4 linked regions of the Homo sapiens genome follow. The protein of the gene in region 1 purifies or fractionates together with the protein of each later gene. This does not show direct contact. Each region holds a gene or a part of one and is shown in the gene's direction. Other genes may lie near its edges.

Region 1 (3,978 bases):
GCAGGAGAATGGCGTGAACCCGGGAGGCGGAGCTTGCAGTGAGCAGAGATCGCACCACTGCACTCCAGCCTGGGCGACAGAGGGAGACTCCGTCTCAAGTCAAACCTCATAACCTACCACCAGTGCTCCTGGCACCAAAATCACAAGAAAACCTTGGGTGGAGCAACCATTTTCAGACTTAGGGACACAGGTTAGATAGTCGGCATGTAAAAATGTTAAATAAATATGTATCCCTTCGGGTTCTCTCCACCTCCAGCCGACACATCCTAAATAAATTCCACTAAGTGGTTGAGGGAATCTACTAAACCTTAGAAGCCCTCTTTTTTTTTGAAACGGAGCCTCACTTTGTTGCCCAGGCTGGAGTGCAGTGGCGCCATCTTGATTCACTGAAACCTCTGCCTCCTGGGTTCAAGCGATTCTTCTGCCTCAGCCTCCAGAGTAGCTGGGATTACAAGCGCGCACCACCACGCCCGGCTAATTTTGTATCTTTAGTGGAGATGGGATTTCGTCATGTTGGCTAGGTTGGTCTTGAACTCCTGGACCTCAAGCGATTCGCCTAAGAAGCCCTCTTTGAGGAAGAAGGAAGAAGTTTCCAGGGCCATTGGATTCCAATATCCAAGTAAGGTTGATCTAACTGAAGACAAGTGAACTCGAACCATAGGACAGCTCTGCACTAACCCTCCCACTAGGCTGGATTCTGCCTCTGTTCCATCCCAGCTCCCTTTCTCCTTTATGGACTCAATGAAGTGGTCAAGCAATTATAGATTTTGGCTTGGGACAAGCAAATTACTCAGGATGAAGAAATACTTTGGTGACCTTTAGTGCCCTCAGATCGCCCCTTGCCAACTGAGAACAGAGTACAATAAAACAACAGGGCATTAAGCAGGACCAAGCGCCACTCAGAGGCAAGTGCAGCTCCAAGGGCCCTCAGAGTAAGCTTCTGGGCCTCAGGCGGCCTTCGCTGGAATCCCCTAGTCCCCATTCCTGGTGGGCGGGTTCCATTGACACCTTTCCCGGCCACGCCGAGGGGGAGGAGGCGGGGCCTGGAGCCCCGGAGAGCCAATGTGGACGGCCGTGGTCACGCGCCGCCGTCGAGCAGGCCAATGGGCGCCGGGGGGCGTGTCCAGGGCCTCGGGCTCAGGGCGTTTATAACAACTTGGAATGCTGTGCTTTACTGCGCGCTCTGGTACTGCTGTGGCTCCCCGTCCTGGTGCGGGACCTGTGCCCCGCGCTTCAGCCCTCCCCGCACAGCCTACTGATTCCCCTGCCGCCCTTGCTCACCTCCTGCTCGCCATGGAGTCGCTGGTTTTCGCGCGGCGCTCCGGCCCCACTCCCTCGGCCGCAGAGCTAGCCCGGCCGCTGGCGGAAGGGCTGATCAAGTCGCCCAAGCCCCTAATGAAGAAGCAGGCGGTGAAGCGGCACCACCACAAGCACAACCTGCGGCACCGCTACGAGTTCCTGGAGACCCTGGGCAAAGGCACCTACGGGAAGGTGAAGAAGGCGCGGGAGAGCTCGGGGCGCCTGGTGAGTGCGGCTCCCTCTCGCGGCGCGGGGCGGGCTCCGGCTTGGCCGCCGGCAGGGAGCGGAGGAGGGCGGGCGGCGGCTCGCTCGTTGCTCGGCGGAGAGGCCAGCGTGGTCTTTACCGCGCTGAGCTTGCGGGGCTACTGCGGGGTGTCCCTGGCAGATGTGTCAGTCCGTGATTGCAGGGACAGTGGTCGCAAACTTGCGAACCCCAGCCAGCAACACCGTACTGCTGTGATGATTGCCAAATAAAAGGGAGGCTATGGATAGTTGGCGCGGAAAAACGAATCGTGTCGTGTCCTGGGATAAGATGGATGGGACTTAAGTTGAGTTTTGCTGGGAAAAGACTGTTCAATAGAGTGCAATGGAAAGAGGAAGTAGAAGGCACCCCATCTTAATAGGTATTTGGTAAATATGTGTGTGGTTGAATGAATGGATGAGGTGTGGATTTCCCCAACTCCAAGAATCTGGCAACCCAGCACACTGGAGCTCTGGCACGGGGTGGGTTTTGACATTTAGGTCCTTTCCAGCTCTAAAATTTAGTTGAAATTTCATTATGATGAGTTTTTGATTCTGGAAAATGTGAAACCAGGTCCACTGTACCAGAGACACCTTTCGGTTTGGGGGCCTTTTCAAGAACATGCCCTGTTACTTTGGTGCGAGCGTAGGAGTCTAGCAGTCTGTGTGACCTTGGGCAATTTCCTTCATCTCTGTACTTTGTTTCCCCTTTTGCAGAACTGTAGAAAACACAGCCTGCCTCACAAGCTGCTGTGAGGATTGAATAAGATCGAAATATGAACTTATATTGCTCCTAACACATAGAACTTGCGGTGAGATAGCCGGGCGCGGTGGCTCACGCCTGTAATCCCAGCACTGTGGGAGGCCGAGGCGGGCGGATCGTGAGGTCAGGAGATCGAGACCATCCTGGCTAACACAGTGAAACCCCGTCTCTACTAAAAATACAAAAAATTAGCCGGGCGTGGTGGCGGACGCCTGTAGTCCCAGCTACTCGGGAGGCTGAGGCAGGAGAATGGCCTGAACCCAGGAGGCGGAGCTTGCAGTGAGCCGAGATCGTGCCACTGCACTCCAGCCTGGGCAACAGAGCGAGACTCCGTCTCAAAAACAAAACAAAACAAAACAAAACGAAACAAACAAAAAAAGAACTTGCAGTGAGAATTTCTGGAAAGGGCAGCCCAGAAAGGATGGCAAATTTGTCAAAAGTTAGTTAGCAGTGGTTAACTGGTTCTCAAACTTGAGTTTAAAGTACGTAAGGATCACCTGGGATGTTTGTTTAAAATACTTACATTCTCTGGTTCCACACCCAGAGTAATTTATTCTGAAGGTCTAGGATAGGGCCATATAATGTATATTTTAACAAGCCTTTTAGAGCAGGTGGTTTAGGCATTATTATGTTTTGCCAAATCCAGTTGGGTGCTGGTTGTGAGGGGGTGTGTGTGTGTGTGTGTGTGTGTGTGTATGGTTTGCCCTATTGGCTACATCAGCAGTTACTTCCCCAGATTGTGTTTGCTTTTGCAGCCAGTAGCTGGTTTGAAATTCAAGAAGTCATTTCATTGGTGAAGGAGAGTGGATGTTGGAGAAAGGGGTAGATTATGGCCCCATCAATAGGACCGAGTATGTTTTTCCTGCTATCGCCTGGCACAGTCCCCAGTTGCCTGCTGCCAGGTTACAGCTATTGGGCAATCATGTACTTCCTGGCTTGCCTTTTCTTTCTCTTTCTGCAAAGTGTGAGGGCCCGGTGAGGCTCCAGGCTTGAGGCTGTTGGACCCAGGCTTTGTCAGGGGCTTAGCTGGAAAATAGCTGCTGGTGGCTTGTGCTTCGTGCCTCTTGGGGGTGGAGACACTGGGTCGTGGGGACTGGGGTGGCCCAGAGACTGAGAAACTGAGATTGAAGTTCAGAGTTCCCATCAGGCTCTTGACCCAGGTCACTGTGGGGTGTGTGTGTGGATGTGCATGAGAGAGAGAGAGTAAGAGAGAGATCTCATTTGATTCCAGAATGAGATAAACTAGCTTTCAGTTTTCAAACTTAAGTGGATTTAGGCAGGGATTCCAGCTCTTATTACATCAGAAGATACTCCCTGGCCTCATGCCTCTTGCTCTATGTAGGAAGCCAAGATCAGTAGGCATGGGACCTGCTGTGAACCTCCCTGATCCATAGACCACCCAGTTCTGCAGCTGGGAACTTGCTCAGGGTCTCCTTCCTTCTTGGAGAGCAGCTGCCTGCTGTGCTAATGGTTTCTCAATTCTGGAGCATTGCCTCTTCCCCACCCCACCCCACCCCTGCCTCTTGACTGTCCTTCGTGAATCGAGAGAGACCTAGTGCCTCAGGATACTTCAGTGCGGGAGAGGGGTGTGGGAGCTTGCCCAAGACCTCCCCTAGAATGAATTGAGATTGTTGGTGGGAGCTAGATTCAGAGGAAAGCCAGCTGGGTGACTTCCA
Region 2 (3,545 bases), on another chromosome or scaffold:
CTGTAATCCCAGCACTTTGGGAGGCCGAGGTGGGCAGATCACCTGAGGTCAGGAGTTCGAGACCAGCCTGGCCAATGTGGCAAAACCCCGTCTCTACTAAAAATACAAAAATTAGCTATTACATAAAATTATTGAGATTTTATGTAATAGTTAATTATTGAGCATGCCTGTAGTCCCAGCTACTTGGGAAGCTGACGCAGGAGAATTGCTTGAATCTGGGAGGCAGAGGTTGCAGTGAGCCGAGATCGTGCCACTGCACTCCAGCTTGGGTGACAGAGCAAGACTCCATCTCAAAAAGTAATAATAATATTAAGTTTGGACCAGAAATTCACACAGTTACTTCACTAAGCACATTGTTTTGTTCAGCTGACATATCTTTTGTAGGACTTTCTAGATGAAGGAAGCAGTACATTGCATTGCATTCTGGAGGAAGTTTGCTATCTCTGTGAGCACCTTGAATAGCACTCCTTAAGTTGCAATTTCAGCATGATAATCAGTAGGATGTCCGAAAGTTGTGGTTTACCAACAGGGATTACTGTGGGATTCAGAGAAGAGAAGATAGTTTCATGCTAGGGTGGTCTTTGAATGCTTTAAGGACTGGGCAAAGTTTGACATGATGCTTAAGAATTCTCTAGGCAGAGAGATTCTGCAGGGCAATCCTGTGGATAAAGAATGAAAGAATCAGCCGTGTGTTGAGAATGTAGAGGGTGTGATGGGAACCATGAATCTGAGGAAAATAGGAATCTAGAAAAGTAGCAGTGTCATGAACCTGAAGAAGTAGACTGGAGCCAAATCATAGAGGCCTGAACCCAGATAAAGGAATTTGGAGATTATTTTTGGAGGGAAAACAATTAAAGCACTTGACCCAGAGGAATGACCCAATCAAAGTATGTTTTAGGAAGACTGGTCTGACGTTGCTGTGCAGGCTACAGTTTCACTGGGAAGAAGAGAGAGGCAGAGATTTGTTGGGAAGCTGTTTGCAGAGTTTCCAAGTAAGGTGATAAAGTCTTAACTACAGTAATGGTGGTAGGGGGAAAGAAATAAACCAGATTCCAGAGACATTTCTAAAATGATTCACATAACTGAGACTTACAAGGCACAGGGAAGAACCAAAAACAACCAAGATATGACACTTAAGCAAATGAATAGGAAATATATGACCAAATTCATCAATTTTCAGATTGCCTTGTGTACACATGTATCTAGTATTGTGCTAGCAATACCACAGTAAGGAAACCCCAGTTTCCTTTCTATATAAAATGAAAATTTTAGTTCACCCATCCAGCTGCTAGGGCGTTTTATAATTAGGGCCAGGAAGAAGAACTGGATTAGGCTAGGAAGTGAATTTGTCTCAGGTTAGAGAAATAAGAGTTTAATTGTTTTATATTTTAAATGGCTTTCTCTTTCCCAAGGTGCTGATAGCTTATTGGATATAAGTTCTGAAGCTGACCAACAAGATCTTCTCTCTCTATTGCAAGCAAAAGTTGCTTCCCTTACCTTACACAATAAGGAGTTACAAGATAAATTACAGGTATATAAATAGATTGCTATCATGGACTATTCTGTAGAGTCAAGCTCTTGGTCTTTTCAGTAGTCAGATGTATTTTGTTTTAAATGTGTACATTAGTTTCTTTTTAAATATTAGCTTTAAGCATCTTATAGTTTCAGATTATTTGTTTCATGAGAGTGTTATTCATTAACTCTTTCTGTAAATTATTCAACTGGTAAATTATAAATAATTATACACATAGTATGATCAGTATTAAATATTCTATATGTTTAATAAATTATATAAATAAAACAAAATTTATAGAAAAAATTCTATATAAAATATACTATATGCATAGAATGATGCATAATATATAATTTTATATTTTGATTTTATATATATTAAAATTTTACGTTTTAAATTATATATGTATGTGTGTATGTATATATATATATATATATATATAAAATATTATCCATTTAGTAAAGTTGATCATTTAACAGGTTTAAGTACTTGATAAGAAATGGCTGTACCAAAAAATAAGAAGAAGAAATAGCTGTACTATATATCCATTACCCCTCTTGGCAAGTAGAATGATATAAGAAATAAAGGAAATTTTTGAATTGGAGGCTTTGTAGAGAAAACAATTTTAGTGTTTTCAAAGTGACACAAATCGTCTGTCCCAATAGAACCCAAAGCAAGCTTTGTGTCATTAGTCCCACTCATGTCCCAGACTGTCTTTTTTCATGGCATGAGAATACACAGGCAAAGTGATCATGCTACTCTCCCGTACCAAAGTTGCGGATTTACTCCTCTCATTCTAGTTGCTTGCTTAGCTAACCACGCCTTTGGTATCTTTTTTTTTTTTTTTTTTTTTTTTTTTTTTTTTTTTTGAGACGGAGTCTTGCTCTGTCGCCCAGGCTGGAGTGCAGTGGCGCGATCTCGGCTCACTGCAAGCTCCGCCTCCCGGGTTCACGCCATTCTCTTGCCTCAGCCTCCCGAGTAGCTGGGATCACAGGCGCCCGCCACCACGCCCGGCTAATTTTTTGTATTTTTTTTTAGTAGAGACGGGGTTTCACCGTGTTAGCCAGGATGGTCTCAATCTCCTGACCTTTGATATCATTTAATTCTTGCTTTTTTTTCCTAGGCCAAATCACCCAAGGAGGCGGAAGCAGACCTAAGCTTTGACTCATACCATTCCACCCAAACTGACTTGGGCCCATCCCTGGGAAAACCTGGTGAAACCTCTCCCCCAGACTCCAAATCATCTCCATCTGTCTTAATACATTCTTTAGGTAAATCCACTACTGACAATGATGTCAGAATTCAGCAACTGCAAGAGATTTTGCAAGATCTACAGAAGAGATTAGAGAGCTCTGAAGCAGAGAGAAAACAGCTACAGGTCGAACTCCAATCCCGAAGGGCAGAACTGGTATGCTTAAACAACACTGAGATTTCAGAGAACAGCTCTGACCTCAGCCAGAAACTTAAAGAAACTCAGAGCAAATACGAGGAGGCTATGAAAGAAGTCCTTAGTGTGCAGAAGCAGATGAAACTCGGTCTTGTCTCACCTGAAAGCATGGATAATTATTCACATTTCCACGAGCTGAGGGTCACGGAAGAGGAAATAAATGTGCTAAAGCAGGATCTGCAGAATGCATTAGAAGAAAGTGAAAGAAATAAAGAGAAAGTGAGAGAGTTAGAGGAAAAACTGGTAGAGAGGGAGAAAGGTACAGTGATTAAGCCACCTGTGGAAGAGTACGAGGAAATGAAAAGTTCATATTGCTCTGTTATTGAGAATATGAATAAGGAGAAAGCATTTTTGTTTGAGAAATACCAAGAAGCCCAAGAAGAAATCATGAAATTAAAAGACACACTAAAAAGTCAGATGACACAGGAAGCCAGTGATGAAGCTGAGGACATGAAAGAAGCCATGAATAGGATGATAGATGAACTCAATAAACAGGTGAGCGAGCTGTCACAGCTGTACAAAGAAGCCCAGGCTGAGCTGGAGGATTACAGGAAGAGGAAATCTCTAGAGGATGTCACAGCTGAA
Region 3 (3,545 bases), on another chromosome or scaffold:
TCATTTCCCACCTATGAGTGACAACATGCAGTGTTTGGTTTTCTGTCCTTGCGATAGTTTGCTGAGTGATGGTTTCCAGCTTCATCCATGTCCCTACAAAGGACATGAATTCATCCTTTTTTATGGCTGCATAGTATTCCATGGTGTATATGTGCCACACTTTCTTAATCCAGTCTATCATTGATGGACATTTGGGTTGGTTCCAAGTCTTTGCTATTGTGAAAAACAGCAGCAATGGAGTTTCACTCTTGTTGCCCAGGCTGGAGTGCAGTGGCATGGTCTTGACTCACTGCAACCTCTGCCTCCCGGGTTCAAGCAAGTCTCCTGCCTCAGCCTTCCAAGTAAGTGGGATTACAAGCACCCGCCACCATGCCCAGCTAATTTTTGTATTTTTAGTAGAGATGGGGTTTCACCATGTTGGCCAGGTTGGTTTTGAACTCCTGACCTCAGCTGATCCACCCGTCTCGGCCCCCCAAAGTGCTGGGATTACAGGCGTGAGTCACCGTGCCTGGTCACATTTTTTTTTTTTAAAGGCAGTCTATGGCCTTATGTAGCTGAAGTCCATATGGGCTCTAGGCATAGCTTGATCCAGGGGCACAAGTGAAGTCCAGAGCATCTCTCTATCACTCTGCTGAACTCTGTTGGCTTCACTCTTAGACAGGTTCTCTCCGTGAGGCACTCAGCATGGGTCCTACTGCAGGCCCATATCACAGCCAAAACACAGCACCTCTTGCCCTGTGCGTGATGCTCACTGGGCCACCTTGGTCAGATGGCAGCTCCTGAGCCCATCACTGTTGCAAAGGTGACAGGAAGGCCTGGTGATGTGCGCACCCTGGAGCCAGGCTATGGGCCCGGTCACATTGAAACCATATGGGGCAAAGTGTGGGTGAGGAAAGTCAAGATGAGGTCACAGGGGAAGGGAGAATGGATTTTCGTAGGCCCAAGCAGCAGCTGTGCTGCAGGGACACGCAGCAGCACCATGTCCTGTGCAGAAGGGACCCTCCCTGGCCACTTTGCACAGGGGCATGGAACTGGCAGGAAGAAGACATGATGTGTTTTTGAAACATTTGAAGCCAGCTCACTTGGAATTCCAGCATCCAAGTCAGCTGGAAGAGGGGGAGTTACCCTTGGAGGCAGGCGGAATCGACCATTGGATAGCTCCAAGTGCTGACAAGGGCGGACACGGGAGCTGATTTCTGCCTGGTGGGAAAGGTGATGATTCCAGCTACTTTGGGAAGTGGTTGGTCAGCATGGATTATAGCCGAAGGCCCCAGCTTTGCCTTGTTCTAGCAGTTCCACTCCTGGGCAGCCCGAGAGAGGCCTTCCCAACCATGGGCAGATGTTCATCATAGTATTGTTTGCAGTAGTAAGAGGTCGGAGCCCACACCAAAGAGGATGGATCAATCACTAAACTCTAAATGAGTGATCTAAGCAGGGGTCAGCAAACTTTCTCTGTAAAGGGCTAGACAATGAATGTTTCAGGTGTTGCGGGACACACCATGCCTGGCACCACTATTCCACTAGTGCTGTGGAGCGGGAGACTGCTAGGGATGGTGTGTGAATGAATGGGAATGACTGTTCCATCCCACGTTTATTGACAAAAATCGCCTTTCAGAATAGGCAAATCCACAGGGACAGAAAGATTGCTGGGTGCAAGGGGCTGGCGGAGAGGGAGGTCTGAGAAGTGACTTTTTTTTTTTTTTTAAGACAGGATCTCACGCTGCCTCCCAGGCTGGAGTGCGGTGGAGTGATAATGGCTCACTGCAGCCTTGACCTCGTGGGCCCAAGTGATCCTTCCATCTCAGCCTCCCAAGTAGCTGAGACCATAGGTGTGCACCACCATGCCCAGCTAATTTTATTTTTCTAGAGACAAGGTCTCCCTATGTTGCTCAGGCTGTTCTCAAACTAGTGGGCTCAAGTGATCTCCCATCTTGGCCTCCCAAAGTACTGGGATTACAGGCATGAGCCATGGTGCCTGGCTGGGAGTGACTTCTTCTTGGATACAGTATCCATTTGGGATCATGAAAAAGCTCAGGAAGTAGATAGTGGTGATGGTTGCATAATATTGGAGGTATCCTAAATGCCACTGAATTGTGCACTTTAAAACAGGGAAGTTGGTAAATTTTATGTTGTTTATTTTACCACCACCACCACAACAAAAGATAAAGAAAACACAACAGGTGGTCAACACCCACAAGCTATAGCTTTCTGACCCCTGGGCAAGGGCTCTGTCTACAGATACAGACAGATCTCAGCAACATGTTGAACACAAGAAGCAAATTGCAGAAGGATGTGCAGCAGACATGCAGAGGGCGCTGACTGTGGTTGAATAAAAAGCCAGTCACCCTCCCTTCCCCTCCCTGAATTGAGACCCATTCGGCTATAATAGGATTGAACAGTTGGTGACTCCTTTAAAGAAATGACACAGCCAGGTGTGGTGGCTCATGCCGGCTTTGGGAGGCCAAGGCAGGAGGATCCCTTGAGCCTGGGAATTTGAGGCTTCAGTGAGCCATAATTGCACCACTGTACTCCAGCCTGGGTGACAGTGTGAGGTCCTGTCTCAAAAAAAAAAAAAGGGTCAGATGCGGTGGCTCCTGCCTGTAATTTCAGCACTTTGGGAGGCCGAGGCGGGTGGATCATGAGGTCAGGAGTTCAAGACCAGCCTGGCCAACATGATGAAACCCCATCTCTATTAAAAATACAAAAGTTAGCTGGGTGTGGTGGCGTGTGCCTGTAATCCCAGCTACTCAAGAAGCTGAGGCAGGAGAACCGCTTGAACCTGGGAGGCAGAAGTTGCAGTGAGCCAAGATCATGCCACTGCACTCCAGCCTGGGTGACAGAGCGAGACCATATATATATATATATGGCCTAAAGTTTACTGAGCAAATCCAGTGCTCAATTACATCTAACTTTTCCTGTCACTACCAATATAATTTTTTTTTTTTTTGGAGACGGAGTCTCACTCTATCACCCAGGCTGGAGTGCAGTGGTGCAATCTCACTGCAACTTCCGCCTCCAAGATTCAAGAGATCCTTCCGCCTCAGCCTCCCAAGTAACTGGGATTACAGGCATAAGTCACCATGCTGAGCTAATTTTGGTATTTTTAGGAGAGACACGGTTTCAACACGTTGGGCAGGCTGGTCTCGAACTCTTGACCTCAGGTGATCTGCCCACCTTGGTCTCCCAAAGTGTTGGGATTACAGGCATGAGCCGTTGTGCCACCCCCCAATATAATCTTAATCCAGCATCTTCATACATTTTATCACCATTACCACTTCTGTCTATATATGTTACATATATAGGAGAGATATATATATAGGTTTTATATATATAGGAAATGTGTATATATAGGTGTTATATATATAGGAGATGCATATATATGTTATATATATATTATATATATAAATATTTTTTATATTTATATTTTTGTATGTGTGTGTGTGTGTATATATATATATATATATACTTTTTTTTTTTTTTTTTTAGACAGAGTCTCACTGTGTTGCCCAGGCTGGAGTGCAGTGGCGTGATCTCAGCTCACTGCA
Region 4 (3,545 bases), on another chromosome or scaffold:
GTGAGACTCCATCTCAAAAACAAAACAAAACAAAACAACAAAAACGTGTGTGTGTGTATATACACACACATATATATATCTCCATTCCAATTTGGCTGTGTAAGACACAGTCCTTGCTCTTAAAGTAGAAGGGATACAGTCAGCAGAACATAATAATGAATGGCAAGCTATTATATTTCTTATGCCGTTTGACTTGTTTTTTGGTTTAACTTGTTCTTTTTCCTGTGTTTTATGACTCCATCTCACAGGAGAGCCTTATAGATGCAAGTGAAGACAGCCAGCTAGAAGCTGCCATCAGAGCCTCCTTACAAGAAACACATTTTGATTCAACACAGACAAAACAGGATAGCCGCTCAGATGAAGAATCTGAATCTGAACTTTTTTCTGGCAGTGAGGAGTTCATATCCGTTTGTGGCTCTGATGAAGAAGAAGAGGTAGAGAATCTTGCCAAGTCCAGAAAGTCTCCCCACAAAGATTTGGGGCATAGAAAAGAGGAGAATAGAAGGCCGCTGACTGAGCCACCAGTCAGAACTGATCCTGGAACAGCCACAAACCACCAAGGATTGCCAGCTGTGGATTCAGAGATACTGGAGATGCCACCTGAAAAAGCAGATGGAGTAGTGGAGGGGATAGATGTAAATGGTAAGTTACATTTAGACATACTTTACTTCAAACTTAGATATTGGGGCCGGGCGTGGTGGATCACTGAGGTTAGGAGTTCCAAGACCAGCCTCGCCAACATGGCAAAACCCTGTCTCTACTAAAAATACAAAACTTAGCCAGGTGTGGTGGCACGTGCCTATAGTCCCAGCTACTTGGGAGGCTGAGGCAGGAGAGTGGCTTGAACCAGGGAGGCGGAGGTTGCAGTGAGCTGAGATCACGCCACTGCACTCCAGCAAAACACTTGAGTAATTGCTGAATGGCTGTATTTATTTACATATTTATTTAAACTAATATTCTGTCTTAAACTCCTGTATCCCGTTTTTTTTTTTTTTTTAAACCCTTCCTTTAGGACCAAAAGCACAGCTGATGTTGCGGTATCCAGATGGAAAAAGGGAACAGATCACTCTTCCAGAGCAAGCTAAACTGCTAGTAAGTACAGGCTTGCTTTGGTTCAGTTCCGACCACTGCAATAAGACGAGTCCCAAATTGTTTGGTTTCCTGGTGCATATAAAAGTTATGTTTACATTATTCCATAGTCTATTAAGTGTGCAGTAGCTTTATGTCTAAAAAAAAGCACATAACTTAATTAAAAAAAGCTTTTGCTAAAAAGTGCTAATGATCCCCTGAATCTTCAGTGAGTCATCTTTTTGTTGGTGGAGGGTCTTGATATTGATGGCTACTGACTGATTGGGGTGATGGGTACTGTGGCAGTTTCTGAAAATGTGACAGCAGTGAAGTTGCTGCATCAGTTGCTTCCTTCGACAAAAAATTTCTCTGTAGCATGTGCTGCCGTTTGATAGTATTTTACCCACAGTAGAACTTCTTTCAAAACTGGAGTCAGTCTTCTCAGAATTTGCCGCAATTTTATCCACCAAGTTTATGCAATATTCTAAATCCTTTGTTGTCATTTCAACAGTGTTAAAAGCATCTTCAGCAGAAGTAGATTCCATCTCCAGAAATCACTTTCTTTGCTCATCCATAAGAAGCAACCCCCCTCCCTTTAATGTTTGATCATGAGATTGCAGCAATTCAGTCATATCGCCATCCTCCACTTCTAATTCTAGTTCTCTTGCAGTTTTTACCCCACTTGCAGTGACTTCCTCCAGTGAATTCTTAAACCCCTCAAAGTCATCCATGAGGGTTGGAATCAACCTCTTCCAAAGCCCTGTTCATGTTGATATTTTGACTTCCTATGAGTTGTGAATGTTCTTAATGGTATTTAGACTGCTGAATCCTTTCCAGAAGATTTTCAGTTTACTTTGCCCAGATTCATCAAAGGAATCTGTATTTATGCCCAGGCTGGTGTGCAGTGGTCATAGCTCACTGTAACCTTGACTCCCCGCCCCGGCTCAAGTGATCCTCCTGCCTCACCCTCCTGAGTAGATCACCACACCCAATTAATTTTCTTTTTTTTAGAGATGGTTTCTTGCTGTGTTGCCAGGTCTTGTCTCAAACTCTTGGACTCAAGTAATCCTCTCACCGCAGCCTCCCAAAGTGTTGAGATTTGGCTCCGTGCCTGGCCAAAATGTGTTTCTTAAATAAGATTTAAAAGTTGAAATGACTCCTTGATCCATGGGCTGCAGAATGGATGTTGGGTTAGCAGACTGGAAACAGCATTCATTTTTATTTGCATTTTCGTCAGAGCTCTTACGTGACTAGGTGCGTTGTCAATGAGCAGTAATATGTTGAATCTTTTTTCTGAGCAGTAGGTCTGAACAGTGGGCTTAAAATATTTAGTAAGTTATGCTGTAAATTGATGTGCTGTCTTTCCAGGTTTTGTTGTTGCAGTTACAGAACACAGACAGAGTAGATTTAACATAATTTTTAAGGGACCTGGGATTTTGGAATGTTAAATGAGCATTGGCTTCAACTGGAAGTCACCAGCTGCATTACCCCCTAACAAGAAAGTCAGCCTTTTTGAACCTTTGAGTGCAGCCACTGACTTCTCTCTAGCTGTGAAAGTCCTTGATGGCATCTTCTTCCAATAGAAGGCTGTTTTGTCAAACTTAAATCTGTTATTTAGTGTTGTTACCTTCGTGAACTGTCTTCACTACATCTTCTAGATAAGTTTCTGCACCTTCTGCATCAGCACTTGCTGCTTCACCTTGCACTTTGATGTTATGGAGATGGCTTCTTTCCTTCAACCTCATGAACCAACCTCTGCTAGCTTCCAGCTTTTCTTTCGTAGCTTCCTTAACTCCCTTAGCCTTCATAGGATTGAAAAGAGTTAGAACCTTGTTTTGGATTAGGCTTTGGCTTAAGGGAATGTGTGACTGGTTTGATTTTTCTGTACAGACCACTAAAACTTTCTCCTTTTCAGCAGCACAGCAGTAAGGCTGTTTTGCTTTCTTTCCTTTTTTTTTTTTTGAGACAGAGTCTTGCTCTGTCACCCAGGCTAGAGTACAATGGTGCGATCTCAGCTCACTGCAACCTCCGCCTCCCGGGTTCAAGCAGTTCTCCTTGCCTCAGCCTCCCGAGTAGCTGGGATTACAGGCGCCCACCACCACGCCCAGCTAACTTTTGTATTTTTAGTGGAGATGGGGTTTCACCATGTTGGCCAGGCTGGTCTCGAACTCCTGACCTCAGGTGATCCACCCACCTCAGCCTCTGAAAGTGCAGGTGTGAGCCACTGCTCCCGGCCTGTTTTGCTTTGTTATCATTTGTGTGTTCACTGGAGTAGCACTTTTAATTTCCTTCCAGAACTTTTCCTTGCATTCACAGCTTGGCTGTTTGGTGCCAGAGGCCTAGCTTTGTGTCTGTCTCAGCTTTCCACGTGCCTTTCTCACTAAGCTTCATCATTTTTAGCAATTGATTGATTTTGAGGATGGACACTTCCTTTCACTTGGGTACTTAGAGGCCTACACTGGTAGGTTATTAATTGG

The links. The genes of interacting proteins can lie anywhere in the genome.
Region 2: the proteins of NUAK2 (region 1) and RAI14 purify together in Homo sapiens (affinity purification with mass spectrometry; 2 studies listed by BioGRID and IntAct, with this or other methods). This does not show direct contact.
Region 3: the proteins of NUAK2 (region 1) and PPP1R12C purify together in Homo sapiens (affinity purification with mass spectrometry; 2 studies listed by BioGRID and IntAct, with this or other methods). This does not show direct contact.
Region 4: the proteins of NUAK2 (region 1) and UBXN7 purify together in Homo sapiens (affinity purification with mass spectrometry; 2 studies listed by BioGRID and IntAct, with this or other methods). This does not show direct contact.

Annotation. Positions count from the first base shown.
Region 1 is NC_000001.11:205,318,944-205,322,921, reverse strand, and holds the start of NUAK2 (NUAK family SNF1-like kinase 2), read left to right. Parts: upstream 1-1,176; 5' UTR 1,177-1,293; coding exon 1,294-1,524; intron 1,525-3,978. UniProt on the Homo sapiens protein: Stress-activated kinase involved in tolerance to glucose starvation. Induces cell-cell detachment by increasing F-actin conversion to G-actin. Expression is induced by CD95 or TNF-alpha, via NF-kappa-B.
Region 2 is NC_000005.10:34,820,320-34,823,864, forward strand, and holds part of RAI14 (ankycorbin), read left to right. Parts: intron 1-1,412; coding exon 1,413-1,531; intron 1,532-2,636; coding exon 2,637-3,545. UniProt on the Homo sapiens protein: Plays a role in actin regulation at the ectoplasmic specialization, a type of cell junction specific to testis. Important for establishment of sperm polarity and normal spermatid adhesion.
Region 3 is NC_000019.10:55,104,101-55,107,645, reverse strand, and holds part of PPP1R12C (protein phosphatase 1 regulatory subunit 12C), read left to right. Parts: intron 1-3,545. UniProt on the Homo sapiens protein: Regulates myosin phosphatase activity.
Region 4 is NC_000003.12:196,359,391-196,362,935, reverse strand, and holds part of UBXN7 (UBX domain-containing protein 7), read left to right. Parts: intron 1-248; coding exon 249-642; intron 643-1,012; coding exon 1,013-1,092; intron 1,093-3,545. UniProt on the Homo sapiens protein: Ubiquitin-binding adapter that links a subset of NEDD8-associated cullin ring ligases (CRLs) to the segregase VCP/p97, to regulate turnover of their ubiquitination substrates.